2 separate regions of the Homo sapiens genome follow, and region 2 is linked to region 1. Evidence: fine-mapped expression QTL. Tissue or cell type: whole blood. Region 1 holds a variant in brackets; the other region holds the start of a gene. All regions are shown on one strand. Distances are from middle to middle.

Evidence for each region. PIP is the estimated chance that this variant, and not a neighbour inherited with it, causes the effect.
Region 2: it holds the start of TPP2, and the variant in region 1 is fine-mapped to the expression of TPP2 in whole blood (TOPMed, PIP above 0.99).

Annotation. Positions count from the first base shown.
Region 1 is chr13:102,644,613-102,652,896 of GRCh38, forward strand. TPP2 (tripeptidyl peptidase 2) reads left to right here. Exons shown (of 30, transcript NM_001330588.2): 18 at 1-61; 19 at 297-397; 20 at 1,682-1,778; 21 at 2,595-2,732; 22 at 4,295-4,539; 23 at 4,796-4,874; 24 at 6,747-6,785. Among named protein-coding and RNA genes, the nearest start is that of METTL21C, 46 kb to the right of the region's middle. The variant A/G (reference allele first, on the strand shown) is at 4,273.
Region 2 is chr13:102,594,059-102,601,166 of GRCh38, forward strand. It overlaps TPP2 (tripeptidyl peptidase 2), which reads left to right and starts at 2,928. Exons shown (of 30, transcript NM_001330588.2): 1 at 2,928-3,145. The coding sequence starts at 2,981. LOC107984588 (a long non-coding RNA gene) reads right to left here and starts at 2,884. Exons shown (of 2, transcript XR_001749984.3): 1 at 2,390-2,884; 2 at 1-343. RefSeq lists enhancers at 2,362-2,521, 2,572-2,631 and silencers at 2,702-2,991, 3,152-3,441.

The DNA of each region.
Region 1 (8,284 bases):
CAACATTGATTATACCATTTCTTTCCATGGGATAGTGTGTACTGCTCCTCAGTTAAACATTGTAAGTTCCACAACATTTTCATGATTTTTAATGTCAGTTACTTGTGTTACTGGAGAGTAACTTCATTGGTTAGATTTAAACTTTAATGAGGGGAAATTACCTGTGGTTCTGAAGATAGCAGTAGGCTTTGTGTGTGGGTACTTATAAACTTTATATTGGACACATTTATTTTAGGTACAAAATATTGCTTATTTTTAGTAAAGTTTGAGAAAGTAATTTGAGAAATCCTTTGTAGCATGCATCGGAAGGAATCAACCGCTTTGATGTTCAGTCCTCCTTGAAATACGAAGATCTGGCTCCCTGCATAACTTTGAAGAACTGGGTCCAAACACTGCGGTATCATTCAATGTTTTAGGAACTACAGATATTGAATATAGATTGGGGGGATCTCTTACACTCTTAAAAAAGGGCCTTTTTTTTTTTTAATCCACCTGCATGCTAGAGGTGAGAATTTTATCCTTGCCAGCAGATCTCTGCAAGGCAGCCCCAGTATCAGCTTCTAGCTTCACTGTCCCACCTGACCAGCAAAGTCAAGGATGGTGGATAGCCGATCCCAGTCATGACTAGTTAGGATCAGTGGACATTAACCTTTTTATTTCTTGCTGTAAAATAGCAAGTTAACATTCTCTCTGATATTATTTTGTGAATCCTAATGCAGTCATTTTTAGAAACTGCAATACCATTAGAAACTGTTTATTAAATGGTAGAAACTTAAGTACTGTAGCCTGCTGTTTGTGCCTCAGCAGCTCCCCTTACAAAAGCAGGGCACCTTGACCTGTGTTCACATACTCACTGTGTTATAAAGATACCTGGTTTCTTTTGTTTAATCTGACCTTAACTCATCGGCATGAAGCCTAGTCTTAAGTGTATTAAAATAACCAATTAGGGACAATAGTCAGTGACACGGTGATGTCTAAAGATATACTGCTTCCTAGAATTATCAATAAAAATTAAAACATCCAGCTTTTGAAGATATATCCAACTTATATCATCCTGATGTTTTCTTCCTAAATCTAAAAAATTGGAGCTAAATTTAGAGTAGATTATGTTTCACTGACATTTTAAACTATATTTAAAACTTACTCTTCAGTGTCAGTTTTCTCCTTTATAAAATCTGTACATTAGCAACTTCCTTCAGAGGACTACTAAAAATATGAAATAACATTCCCTCGGCCAGGAGGAGGGCTGAGTGTGGCCCCTGCCATCTGGTGAGCAGCAGGGGTCTGGGGAGGTCTGTGCTGCACACAACACAGTACTGTCAACAGTTTGCACAAGGGGTACAAATCAGAACCTGTCTTGCAACACTTTTAGTTGTCACCCTAGTGTTAGGATTTGGTTGTATTGAGAGCTGTTTGTTCACATTTGAAAATGTTTTTGCCATGAAAAGATTGCCTTTGTCATATTTATTGCAAAATCTAAACTGTATGTATTGATATGATTCAATCAAATAATTATGTAAGTTAGTGATTAAAATATTGTAGAGTATACTGAAAAGGATAGCTCTCAGGAAGGTTCATCTGCACTTTTTGCAATATGTTACAGATTTTGTTGCATATGGTTTTATTTGTCTCATTCAATGAACTCTTGAATCAAACCAGTTATGTAGTTTCCTCATTACAGCCCAGTGAGTGCAAAAACAAAACCTTTAGGATCAAGAGATGTTTTGCCAAATAACCGTCAACTTTATGAGATGGTCCTGACATATAACTTTCATCAAGTAAGTGTTTGCCTAGTAAAGTGTACCCTTAGGATGAACTTTTGTGTTTTATTTATGATTCATAGAATCAAAAATGGAAGGACAGTGTATATGGTATATATAAAAAACAGAATCAAGTGATTAACAGTTAATTTGGAATTACTCTTTAGGAAATTATAATTTGTAATTAAATACCATTCAGTTGTAAAGTCACAAAATGTAATTGAGTGGTGACCTAGCCTTAAGCCTTAGTTTATAAAATCACTGATCACTGTCCATTGGTGCCATCTGACCCAGGGGTGATTAGATGGCTCAGAAATACCATCTGCCTTCTGGTGATGGTGCTGGGCCTGATTGCTTTCTGCGAAGAAGGCACTGGAACAGGGAAAGGTCAGAGTAGCTCCCAGGTGGGATGGGTGGCAAAAGTAATGGAGGCCAGTGTAAATGCTGGACCAAAGAATTGTTGTAAGATCAATGAGATTTCAATAAAACTGTTACTGAAACACACATCAGTTTGGTTATAATGTTAGGGAAATGGATTGGTTTCAGTGAATTTTCACATTTCAGTTTTATAAAGTAATTAGAGGTCCTGAAGTATGTATATGTTGCTTTATTAATGAATACACATAGCCAGGTGTGTATTTTTAAAAGTTTGTAAGAGAGCAGTGACTTTTATAAGTGCTAAAATACTGTGTGTTCTATATTTTCAAAATTTTTTACCACAAGTATTTTTAATGTTTTTTAAATGAAAAAGTCTCATGTCAATAACAATATTAAAAATTTGTATCAGAAATTATATGCAAATCATGCCAAGTAATCTTTTTTGTTTTTTAATAGCCCAAGAGTGGGGAAGTAACTCCAAGCTGCCCACTACTTTGTGAACTATTATATGAATCTGAATTTGACAGCCAACTGTGGATTATTTTTGACCAGAACAAAAGACAGATGGGTTCAGGCGATGCCTATCCACATCAGGTATAAAATTGATGGTGATTTTTAGAATTAACGGAAGCTGTTTCCTGAACTAACAAAATCCTGGTTTCTTGTTATGGTAATGTTCATACTTTAAAAAAAACAAAAATTATAGCTTTGTGTTTAGTACTTTTGCAAACTGTGAGAGCCTGTTTGTTGTAGTCGGTGAAGAACAGATGGTGTCAACTATTTCACCATGTAGTTGTGCTGAATTAGAGGAGGACAAGGGTGAACCTTGCCCACACTGGCCAGCATAACTTTTGGTGTGTGGTGTTTCTCCTTCCTATACACTGATTCTACCTATCTGAAGGTAGAATCATCAAAGCATGCATCAAAGAGATGCGAGCCTCTTGAAATGATCCTAAGTCTGAGGGGGCTAAAGAGAGCACTGCAGCAGTGGCCGCATGTCTTCAGTTCATTTGTACTTTTAAATTTACTACCTCGTTGGACAACTCTGTAATGAGCACTTACTACATACCAGGCACTATGCTTTGTGCTGTTTTATTGAAGGGAAAAATCACATAATTTATAGACATTTTATCCCTTAGATATTACTGCAAAGAAATGAGATATTTCCTGTAATATGTATAATTTTATGTTGACAAATGAAAATAATTTATGGAGATTTTTTTCAATTAGTTGTTAAAGGAATGGTATCGATTTTCCTCAAAGCAAGTAGCAGTCACATCTCATTACAGACTGGCCTACTGCAGTGCTATTATTTTGGTTACTTTTTAAATCTCAGAAAAAGTGGCTGACACAGGATACAGCATCTCTTCCTCTTGAACCTGTTAAGTGGATAATAGATTTGTATCCCTTGATCTCTATTGGTTTCCTGTTTTTTTCCTGTCTGTAATAAAGGAGTGACATTTTGGTTGTAATTTGAAGATCAGCTGGGCATGGTGGCACATGCCTGTGATCCCGTCTACTCAGGAAGCTGAGGTGGGAGGATCGCTTGAGCCCTGGAGCTCTAGGCTATGGTGCACTATGATTGCACCAGTTAACAGCCACTGCACTTCAGCCTGGGCAACATAGTGAGTCCCCCTCTCTAAAAGGAAATAAGGATTACCAGTAGTCATAAGTTACACGTGTGTGTGTGTGTGTGTGTGTGTGTGTGTGTGTGTGTATTTGTCCTAGATATTCTATGGTGCCTCAATTTTGCTCATTTTTTTGGTAGTGTTTCTTATATGTCTCTGAGGGACCCATGAACTAGAAAATCACTGCTTTTGTCATTCTCAAGCAGACACTGAGTTTTGCTAAAAGTGTGGGAGTATTCTGTCGTTCTGGAAAGAATGAGGGCTTTGAAGTCAGACCTGACTTCAGCTCTCTTATACTTTACTCTGTGTGATGTTAGGCAAGTCACTTGATGTCCCTGATCCTGTCTGCTCACCAGCGTACTAGGGACTTTATGTGTTATATGAACGTCTGGATAGTTAGTTCCTTGCACTGTACCTCACATATTATGAACAAGTCTGTGAATGGTAACTTTCACTTTATCCTCTTTCAGTGATTTCCGTTGACTTGGTTAAACTTAACTTTTCCC[A/G]AATGTTGTTTTTCTTTTTCAGTATTCTTTGAAACTGGAGAAAGGAGATTATACAATTCGACTACAGATTCGCCATGAGCAAATCAGTGATTTGGAACGCCTTAAAGACCTTCCATTTATTGTTTCTCATAGATTGTCTAATACCTTGAGCTTAGATATTCATGAAAATCATAGTTTTGCACTTCTAGGGAAGAAGAAATCAAGCAATTTGACATTACCACCCAAATATAACCAGCCATTCTTTGTTACTTCCTTACCTGATGATAAGTAAGTGATAACATTGCTTATACTTACTGCCCATCGTATACACTGTAGTCCTTTTAATGTCAGTTTATGACATCTAGGCTAAATTTAGAGGATGTAGTCATTTTTTTTTTGGCTGAAGTATTTCTTCCTTTGATTTTTGAAGTCTTAGCTATGGGAATGAATTCAGTGTGGAATTGTTTTCATGTTTTTCCCCTTACTTGTCTTTGTGAAACTTTCTCTTTTGTTGCTTTTTTTCTCTTTGAATTCTCTTGTTTAGAATACCTAAAGGGGCAGGACCTGGATGCTATCTTGCAGGATCCTTAACATTGTCAAAGACTGAACTAGGAAAGAAAGCTGTAAGTATTAGTTTTTTAAACACTGAAATTACCTATTAAAAAATTTCATTTCTTTAAAGATAAGAATTAATTCCACATTTCAGAATGGATAAAAGAGAAGATATACTCTTGGGGAAAAAAATTTAATCCTTTTTTCCCAGGTTACTAGTGAAAGTCAGTTAATATTTAGTTGTCTTTTAAAATGTATGCTACTTTTGAAATATTTAGGCTTCTTTTTCACAAGCCTACAGTACTCAGGCCCTGAACCTGTCTTACCTCCTACGGCTAATACACTTGAACTTCCTGTGAAACATGTAAATACAAATCAAACTTGGCTTAAATACATGTGATATTTAAGATTAGAACATGTTATAGAAATTTAACCAATAAGATTGGTTGTCCATATAAGATTATGGACATAGGAATAAATCAGATTATCTTGGGGTGCTTTTAAAAAGTAGTCAGAACAATTACCCTAAAACATGTTTCTTCACACTTCTACAGACCTATCTCATTGGAATTTCACATGGTTAAGTAGGAAAATATGAGATGTTTCTTTTGGTATTGCCTTTTAATTTCAAAATGATGCTTTTTTTAGAAATATGTTTCTGGTTGTTGTACTTTAGACATATATGTTACAGTTTTATAAGTACCTACCTGTTTTTGTTTTTTCCTTCTATGTTTTCATTACAAATTTATTATGAGAATGATGTTTATATAGATCTATCACCTTTTGTCATAATAATCATTTTAGCTCAATGCCAGTAAAAGTTGTCATTCTTAACAGTTTTGCATTTCTCTGTACTATTACTTCTTACAGAGCTAAGTAAGCCTGCTACATAAATGCTGTTATCAAAATGAGTAGTTCTCATACATCTTAAGAATTATATTTATTTTTTGCCACTATTGAACCAAAAGCCATTTATTTACTGTCATTGAAGCATAATTGGGGAAACTTGTGCTTAGAAAGTTGCCTACCCTGACATTTCTTGGGTCTCATTTCAGTTTATACTGTTTATACATACGTACTTTAGTATAATTTGAAGTAAATCAATAGTTAATGGTTTGTAATTAATACATGCACTGATTTAAGAAACCCTGGTAGTTTTTTTTGTAGATTTCATTTCACAGGAAGCATAGCTGCTCCAGCTATTGGGCGTCAGCTGTGAATTTTCGTTCAGATGACAGATGACACTTTGAAGAGTCTGCTTACTTGTGAAGAGTATAACAGAAAAGCATTATTAGTAAAAGTGGGCTTTTAGCAATTCAGAAATAGTTACTACTTCCCAGTTACATTGTTTTAGGAGACAATTGTGAAATTAAATTATAAATATGTGGTGTTAACTATGGTAGCTATTTATCAAGGGAGACCTTCCTGGGAGAAAGCAGTAACTTAAAGCTGTTGAGTTCATTATAACTTCCATCACATTGTTTATGTAATCTTTTCTCAGTGGTTTAGCGTTTTCTTGTTTTTTGGTAGTTGGGAAGGTAACTTTCACTTCACTTTGACTTTCACAGTAACTTTGTTGCTTTTTATAAGAATGCATAGGCAATGGGGTTGTTGTGGTACCCTTTAATCAGACTAGACCATCAACTAAATTTACTATTTTAAGAAATGCTTTTATAAGCAATAGATTTTGATCTACTAAATTTTTCAATAAGAAGTTGACATGTACTCTTAGTAATAACATATTTGAGTACTTTTTCTTATGTAAGGAATGAAAGTGGCAATGTTGCTTTCTTTAAAAGCATGCCATCTTAATCACAGACCTGAGCCTTCTAAGTGGTGTAACACAGGTGGAACATAAACTGAAAGACAATTAGACAGAGGTTCTGTCTCCATCCTGTGTAGATTATGCATGTTTTCTTACAGAATGTCGTTCTAACTCCCAGGGGCAGTCTGCAGCAAAACGACAAGGAAAATTTAAAAAGGTACTGATTGTCAGTTCTTAAAAAAGATGTCTTAAAGCCTTATTTGCATATTAAACTTTTTTCTGTCACTATTATAAACCTTTTTTTTAATAAGTCTCCCTTAGTTTCCTTTCTTTGCATTCTAAAGTATAGTGCTCTTAGCTGTACTTAGAAGCATTGTTGACATACTGCTTTTCTAAAGGTTTTTTTTTTTTTCCCCACCATAAATTCCTGGATGACTCATTTTCTCTGTGTATACAAAAATTTTAATGCTATTCATTTCTTGCTACAGATATGATAACAAGTAGCAATATTTGAAATTTTTCATATTTACAATTTTATAGAGAGATGGATGTGATAATTTTTTTTTTTTAGCCATATAAGCTAAAGCACTTATTTTTAAAGTCTAAAAGCACTTTTAAATTGGGTGATTTGATTAATAAAATGTTGCAGCTTTTTAAAGCGAACTTTATTCCCTGCTCTTGTATCCATTCTGGTTCTGAAAGAAGAGAAACAATAAAGATCAATGGATGTAGCAGGAACAGAAATAAGGACTGTTCACTGACAATTAAAGCTTATGCTAAGAACACAGATTTTAAGCCCATCGCTACTAAGTGGTCTGATCAGCCTCTCTGCAGCATATTAAGCAATCTTTGATTTACTGCTGGGGCCAGATTTAACTCAGAAAAGAAAATGTCTGCTATAAATATATTTTAGGGCCAGGCGCAGTGACTCATGCCTGTAATCCCGGCACTTTGGGAGGGCAAGTTGGGCAGATCCCTTGAGCTCAGCGGTTTGAAACCAGCCTGGGCAGCATGGTGAAACCCTGTCTCTACAAAAAAATGCAAAAATTAGCCAGGCGTGGTAGCACACACTTATAGTCCCAGCTACTCTATTGGAGGCTGAGGTGGAAAGATCGCTTGAGCCTGGGAGGTGGAGGCTGCAGTAAGCTGAGATCACACCACTGCACTCCAGTCTGGGTGACAGAGTGAGACCCTGTCTCAAAACAAAACATACATACATATATATATATATATATATATATATATATATATATATATATATATATATATATATAAAAGGGACCACATATTTAATAAGCTTTCTGGTGAAGACGTGCTACGTCATTCAACATTTTCATGATTTCTTTTTAAACAGAAAGAATTACAGTGGGAAAATCAGTAATGTCCTAATGTATACTTGTTAATTAGTAGTGATATGGAACTGGGGAATCACCATTCTATAACAGCTTATCCTTTATTAAAATGTCTTCTGAAATGTCCATATTATTACATAATAGTAAATAATTTGTCCAAACAAAATACAGATACTAGGAATCATCTTTCTGGAGAAAGATCTAAAGATCAGTATTTCTCAACTGGGTGTCTTGACCGTTTGGGGGCCACGTAATGGGATAAAAACAGCATTTTTTTAAAATAGGAAATGTCAGTTCATCAGACTCATAAAATTGTAATTTCATTTTATGTATTAATGTGTATATCTTTGGGACATTGTAAAAA
Region 2 (7,108 bases), 51 kb before region 1:
TGAGAAAAAATTCCATATAGAATGGAAATAAAGTTTCCAGAAGAAATAGTGATATAAAATGTCTGCTTTTAAGTGTTCAGATATTTTATAAATAGTTGATGGTAGCTATCAGAGTTACACTCAACTGGGTATATTTACATGAGAAACGTGAAAGTTTCATTAAATAATGACGATATTTATACTATGCCAGAAATTACATCCTTTATAATTTTTAAAATTTATGATAGGCCGGGCGCAGTGATTCACGCTTGTAATGCCAGCACTTTGGGGGGCCGAGGCGGGTGGATCACCTGAGGTCGGGAGTTCGAGACCAGTCTGACATCAACATGGAGAAACCCCGTATCTATTTAAAAAAATACAAACATTAGCTGGGTGTGGTGGCACATGCCTGTAATCCCAGCTACTTGGGAGGCTGAGGCAGGAGAATCACTTGAACCCCGGGAGGTGGAGGTTGCAGTGAGCCGAGATCCCGCCATTGCACTCCAGCCTGGGCAAGAAGAGCAAAACTCCATCTCAAAAAAAAAAAAAAAAATTGTGACAAATTTAGACTTCATTTTACAGCTGTACAAAGGGATACATAACTTTTTTAAAAACATGTTTATGGGATATGTAAGCAAAAAAAGAAAAATCTGGCCGGGTGCAGTGGCTGATGCCTGTAATCTGAGCACCTTGGGAGGCCGAGGTGGGTGGATCCCCTAAGGTCAGGAGTTCAAGACCAGCCTGGCCAACATGGCGAAACCCCGTCTCTACTAAAAATACAAAAACTAGCCAGGTGTGGTGGCATGCACCTGTAATCCCAGCTACTCGGGAGGCTGAGGCAGGAGAACTGCTTGAACCCGGGAGGCGGAGGTTACAGTTACCCGAGATTGTGACATTGCACTCCAGCCTGGGCCACAGAGTGAGACTCTGTGTCAAAAAAGAAAAAGAAAAGGAAAGGAAAAGAAAAATCTAAAGAACATTGTTACGGCAGTCTAATAAAAAGTCTGCCACCTAGGTTTCATAATAAACTGTTCATTCCCCATTTATTCATTGGGTGATACTCTGGCAAAGTCATGCACATGGTGTGGTAGAACATACTGGGGAGAGATTGTGAGAAGACAAATCCCGTGTTTTCATCAACCTGTTTTGTAATCCATGACAGTCAGTTAACTTTGTTTCTTCATCTATAAAATGAAGTGATTGGACTATGGTTCACTTGAAACTGGGAGCCATTCTGTTCTATCACTATAAGCTCTATACTGAATGTCTTCTGCGAGTTTGTTATTCTGTTTTCGTCTGTGTTAATTTGAAATTCTTTTCTAGAGGTAATGTAAACAGTTGGGAATAAGAAGAAAAACATTCAACTTTTCTTTTTCCTCTGCACTAAAGAGAACATGCTTGTGTAAGACTTATGGACTGAATAAATGATCAAGGAATCAGCTGAAACCATTGCACAGCCATAAGAATAATTTTTGAGACTTAATGGAGGATCTCTGAAATTCTGTGGGTTGGAAACCGCATGCATAAGGCTTTCCTTTATACCAGGTATTCTTAACTTGGTGTCCATAGACAGAATCCAAGGGGTTCAAAAACTTCCGTAGAAAAAAGATACAAACCTCTTAATTTTTTTCACATCAAGTATGAATGTAGGCAAAAACCAGGGTAGTTATGCTGTTATGTCACCAATAAAAATCAGTTCATCGTAGTGCAGTTTTCACCGCTATCTCCAAATAATTATATTCTTCACTATTTTGAAGTTATGGTAGTTTATTAGCCTTGGCCCTAGCTCCTGTTATTTAATGCAAAAGAAGTACACCTGTAACTATACACACACACGTAAAGCTCCTGCTATATAACAAAATTGCCTTTAGTATTTTTGATAACTGCATTTAAACATAATTTATTTCCTGGGTAATCCTATCTATTTCATTGTATGCATTTTAAAACACTGCTTGAGAAATAGGCCTCACCAGATTGCCAAAGGGGTCTTCGGCACAATAAAAGGCTAAGATTACCCTGGCATGAGCATAGACATAAAGATCATTAGAGGACCACTATGCAGCTTGCAGCAACTGACGGCAGGCACTGTGAATCTGGAAAACTGAAAATTATGGCTCTATAATTGAGTGGACAGCCGTAAGGAGCAATCAGAAACTTCAGTGTAAGAGGAAAAAAAAAGATGTTTTTCAGAAATCCCGGAAGCTAAGGATCAGCAGAGGATAGGAGGGGCCCATTTCAGTCTCGTGCTTTGTTACTGGCTACAAAGGCGACGGAATGACCAACAACCCACTTCCTGTTGACTGAAACTATTGCCTGTCTCCACCCTATTGCTCCCCCTCACCACCTCACCCCCATCAAAGGGGCATAACAACACAGGGGAACCCAAAGTCTACACCCCTTAACCTACGACCTTCCAAAATCATGTCCGGAGCTTTCGCCGACACCGCAGACTCCTTAGCGGCTAAGCGTGAGTGCGCCGGCTCCCTTGCCTCGGGTCAGCAGCACCCCGGGGCTGGGGCTCCTGCAGCAGCCGCACCAAAAAGTTTCATCCACAACCTTAAGTTTGGAAACTATCGTTTGCCAAGCGAAGGGTTCCCATTATTCCTGGCTGGCGGTCCATCTCCTTGCCCGTCTCTCGGGGAGTGATTCGGTCCGGGACACCAGGACTCTGCTTGGAGGCCTGCTGTTGCCTAAAAACCCCAAGCGCGGGCCTCTTCAAGGCCCCAGGTTCGAGATCCGAACCCTCCAGTAATGTCCTCAGACTCCTCCCCCTTCACTGCAGCCCGGGCAATACTCGGGCCTAGCTCCTGAGAGCGGCGCCGTTGGCTTACGTAGCAGCACGTGATTGGCCACCGCTCCCTGGCAGGCCGGGATTGGTGGAAGACGGGCCGACCCCGCCCCTCGCCCCCGCCTCCGGCCCGAGGCCGCACGGGTGTCCTCGCGCTGCTAGTCCGCGCGCAGCCTGGCAGTTTGCCGCTTCCTCGTCCTCCATCCTGCGTCCATGGCCACCGCTGCGACTGAGGAGCCCTTCCCTTTTCACGGTCTCCTGCCGAAGAAGGAGACCGGAGCCGCCTCCTTCCTCTGCCGCTACCCGGAGTATGATGGGCGGGGGGTGCTCATCGCAGTCCTGGACACGGGGGTCGACCCGGGGGCTCCGGGCATGCAGGTGAGGCGGCCCCCGAGGGCCCGGGCGCGGGGGCGCGGGCGGCCGGGGACGCGGGTGGGGACACAGTCTCGGAGCCCGGCAGGCCAAAGCCCCGCTCTGCGGCCGAGTCCGGGCCGGGGTGGGCAGCACCGGGGTGGGCAGAGGTCAGAGCCAGGCGCGGGAGGGACGGGCGCCCGCCAAGGGGACTCAACGGCGCACAGTGCCAGGGTCGCTGGGCGGGCGAGGGCCCGGACCCCAGGTTGGGCCGTGGTCCCCCCAGCTCAACAAAAGCAGCGTGCCCGGCGCGGCTGCCTGGGGAAGCCTGGGTCCCCCTTTGGCCCCAGGGACTCCCCTTCCTTCTCGCTTCGGCGCTGCCAGGCCGGACCCCCCAGGCTCCTTCCCTCCACGCCGCCTTCCTCTGCCTACCCCTCGTGCCTCGGACACCGGTCCCAGCCTGACGTTTTTAAAGAGAATTTTACAGCTTTTATCATTGGGGTGGGGTGGAGACACCAGATAGGCAACTGACATGTGAGAACTTAATGTTTAGGGATCGGGAGATTTGGTTTGGGGAAGAATAGTTTGTCTTTAAGCACGAAAGCTGGGTTTCCAGAAGATAACCCAGTCCTCTTCCGGAATTGTTTCCTGTGGTAGTTTTGTGTATTCTATTTTTAAACGGTCTTCTGCAGCGTGTTTGCTTAGGGTCATTGAATCTTGTGGCTTAGTCTTCGTTTACATAAGGAGAATTCAGTTAGGTTTGGTTTTGGCGAGCTTCTCAGACCTTATGAAAATATGCGACTTTTTTTTTTTTAAACCTGAAAACATACGACGGTTTTTAAAAATTACTTAGTTTTTTGCCTTAGGCAACTTTAAAATCTGTAGATTCAAGGTATCATACCAGAAGGTAGTTTTTTTGAAAGTATGTTGTCTCTCGTTAAAAGCATTCTGTTTAAAGTCTTTAAAGTTTAACTTTTGTACTTTTAACCCTTTACTGAAATCCAGTAATAAAATTTCACCGTTATTCAAGATCCATCTCCCAGCATCCCTGACTAATCCTACTGTATGCTGATCTCTCGTTGATCAGCCCCTGGCTATCTTATCCTCCTTTCTACACTAAACACTCATCCTCCTCCCCACAATGTCCCTTCCCTTCTGGATCCTTTATCGTGCTTTCTGATTATTGAGGTAGCATTTTGGAAGTAACGAGGGGGAGTCTGGCCGAATCTGCTTAGAAACCCCTGGGAATCTTGATTCCTGGTGTGTGTTCTTCAGCACCACTCTGGAGTACAGCACATCTTTTGTGAATCAGAAGAGGATCAGGTACTGAATTCCCTCCCGGTAACTGGAGTTATATAGTTGTCGTTGTATTAATAACTTAAAGACTTAGAACAATGACAGCTATCAACTCATTTGGGGCTTTATTACAAAGTAATAATGCTTTTCATTCAGCTGTGGAGTGTGTTTACTTTTTATAGGATGAGTGGGAGGAAAACAGCTGGGATAAGTGGTTCACCGGTTCTTTTGTCAGGATAATAAGAGGGTCAGAAAAGTTTGGAGAAGTGCTGCTTGGTAGAATTTGTTGGTAGAATTTCCAGATCTGTTTCTCACATTATTCTGTTACTCTCTCTAAAGTAACAATAATTTTCACCCCACAGCCTTGTTGTGAAAATTGATTATAAGAGGACTGGCTAATTACATGTGACTTTTTTAAATGCTCAAGAAAAATATTAAACTATTTTGGCAATGATATTTATTCTTTTTTGTATATATAATTTCAACTTTTATTTTAGATTCAGAAGGTAGAAGTACAGGTTTGTTACATGGGGGTATTGCCTGATGTTAAGGTTTGGGGTGTGATTGATCCTGTCACCCAGGTAGTGAGCGTGGTACCCAGTAGGTAGTGTTTCAGTCTTATTTCCACCCCTTCCCTTTGGGATCCCCAGTATCTGTTGTTCCCGTCTTTGTGTCCATGTGTACTCAATATTTAGCTCCCACCATAAGTGAATAGAAGTTTATGCTGGATCTTTCATCACCAACTATTTGGAGGGTAAATATATGTTAGATATTTGCATGTAATAAATATTCAGATGATAAAATATTGAAATAAAATGAAAGCATAAGTCTTCTCTTTTAACAACCTTGACTCAGATATTGGCCTAAACATAGCCAGTTAAAAGAAATTGGGTACGGTGGCTTGCAAACGTGAGGATTTTTTTTTCCTGTACCTTTAACAGATTTATTTTGTAGATATATGTGTACATCATTAAGATTAGAGGATGGATAGAAAGAAAAAGGAAGGAAAGAATGAAATAGGAGGAAGATGAGGCTGAACTGGCAGTTTGGAAAGCCGGGTGGGGTCTGAATAAAGGACTAGAGGCACAAGTGAAAACGTGGAAGAACACAGTGGGTTGTCTCAGTCTTTGGTGACTTCCTTGGGCCCAATTCTTTTGTGACAGGTCTGTGGGCATGATCAAGTGGAGGATGGGTGGCATGAGAAGAGTAGTAGTTACGTAAGTGATTTCATATTTCCTCAGCAGATATTCAGGCACCTACCAGGTGCCTAAGTTTGTGTTAAATGATATAGTCTTGCAAACTGTCACTCTTGCAGAGATTGACAAGGATTATTGGGGGGATGGGGCAGGGATTGGGGCAGCATTGGCCAGTAAGAGCTGGACTGGTCAGGTTTCACAGACCAGATGGAACTTGGACTAGACCAGAATATATGTATGCAATAGCCAGGAGGTCTCCCTTCCACCAGTCTTGTTTCTCTTTGATCCATCCTTCACATTTCTAGAGTTAGATTCCTTAAAAAAAAAAAAAAACCTTGTATTATACCCTCATTTAAAACAAAGCCATTTTGGAATCTCAACTGCTTTTGTGTAAAAATTAAAAAAAAAAATTGAATGGTATATATGAGGCCATTTGCCATCCAACTCTGGCCTCCTTATGTAGCCTCAGTTCTCATCATTTCTTATGTCCATAGCCCCTTCATCCCCACCTTTCATCCTTTGCCTCCCCTTGAACATTTCATTCTTACACTCACCTAGATGTTTCAGGTCTTTTTGCCAATACATGCCTTTACATGTGGCGTTTCATCTTCCGTCAGGCTTCTACCATCCGTCATCTGTAAACTCCTGCTTCATCCTTTAAGATCCAGTCGGGTCTTGACACCATTATGTTTTGGAAAATCAACTGATTTAATTCTGCGCGCCCCCTCCCCCCACCACCTCGTATTTATGTGTGTTTGCCATTGTGTTAGGGCCTGCAGCTTCAGAGGTGAGTAAGGCCCAATCCCTCCTAAGAGTTATTTAGGCTTTTTGTCTCTTTGCTGTTATAGCAATTTGCTTAGATCCCCTTAATAGCACCTGAAATATGTATTTTAGTGTTTCTGTTTAGATAACTTTTTCCTGGTTAACTTAAAAATCTTTGAAAGCATGTATCAAAATTGTATGACATGTGCTTGTAATGTTAAATGTTTTTGTTGAATGGAAAAAATATATATGGGCATAATGAAGGAATATAATTTCCTCATAGAGGGAAAAAAAAGGTTTGAGGAGGTTACGAGTAGTTTCATAAAACTCTATTTTTACATTCACTAAAATTTTATTACCTCTCTTTCAGTTAGCTTTCCCTCATTCCCCCCAAGTTGGGTTTTGTGTTTTTACATGTTTTTGTATGCTTTCATAGATAGTGTCCTAACCTCTTTTTTTTTTTTCCCTCAAAGACAGGGTCTCACTCTGTCACCCAGGCTGGAGTACAGTGGCACAGTGGCAGGATCACCACTCATTTCAGCCTCAAACTCCTGGGTTTAAGCAAGCCTCCTGCCTCAGCCACTGCAGTAGCTGGGACCATAAGCATGTGCCACCATACCCAGCTAATTTTTTAATTTTTTTGTAGAGACAGGGTCTCACTGTGTTACCCAGACTGGCCTGACCTCTATTATTTGTTGTCCTGTTTTGTCATCATCTCTCTACTTACTTTTTCTTT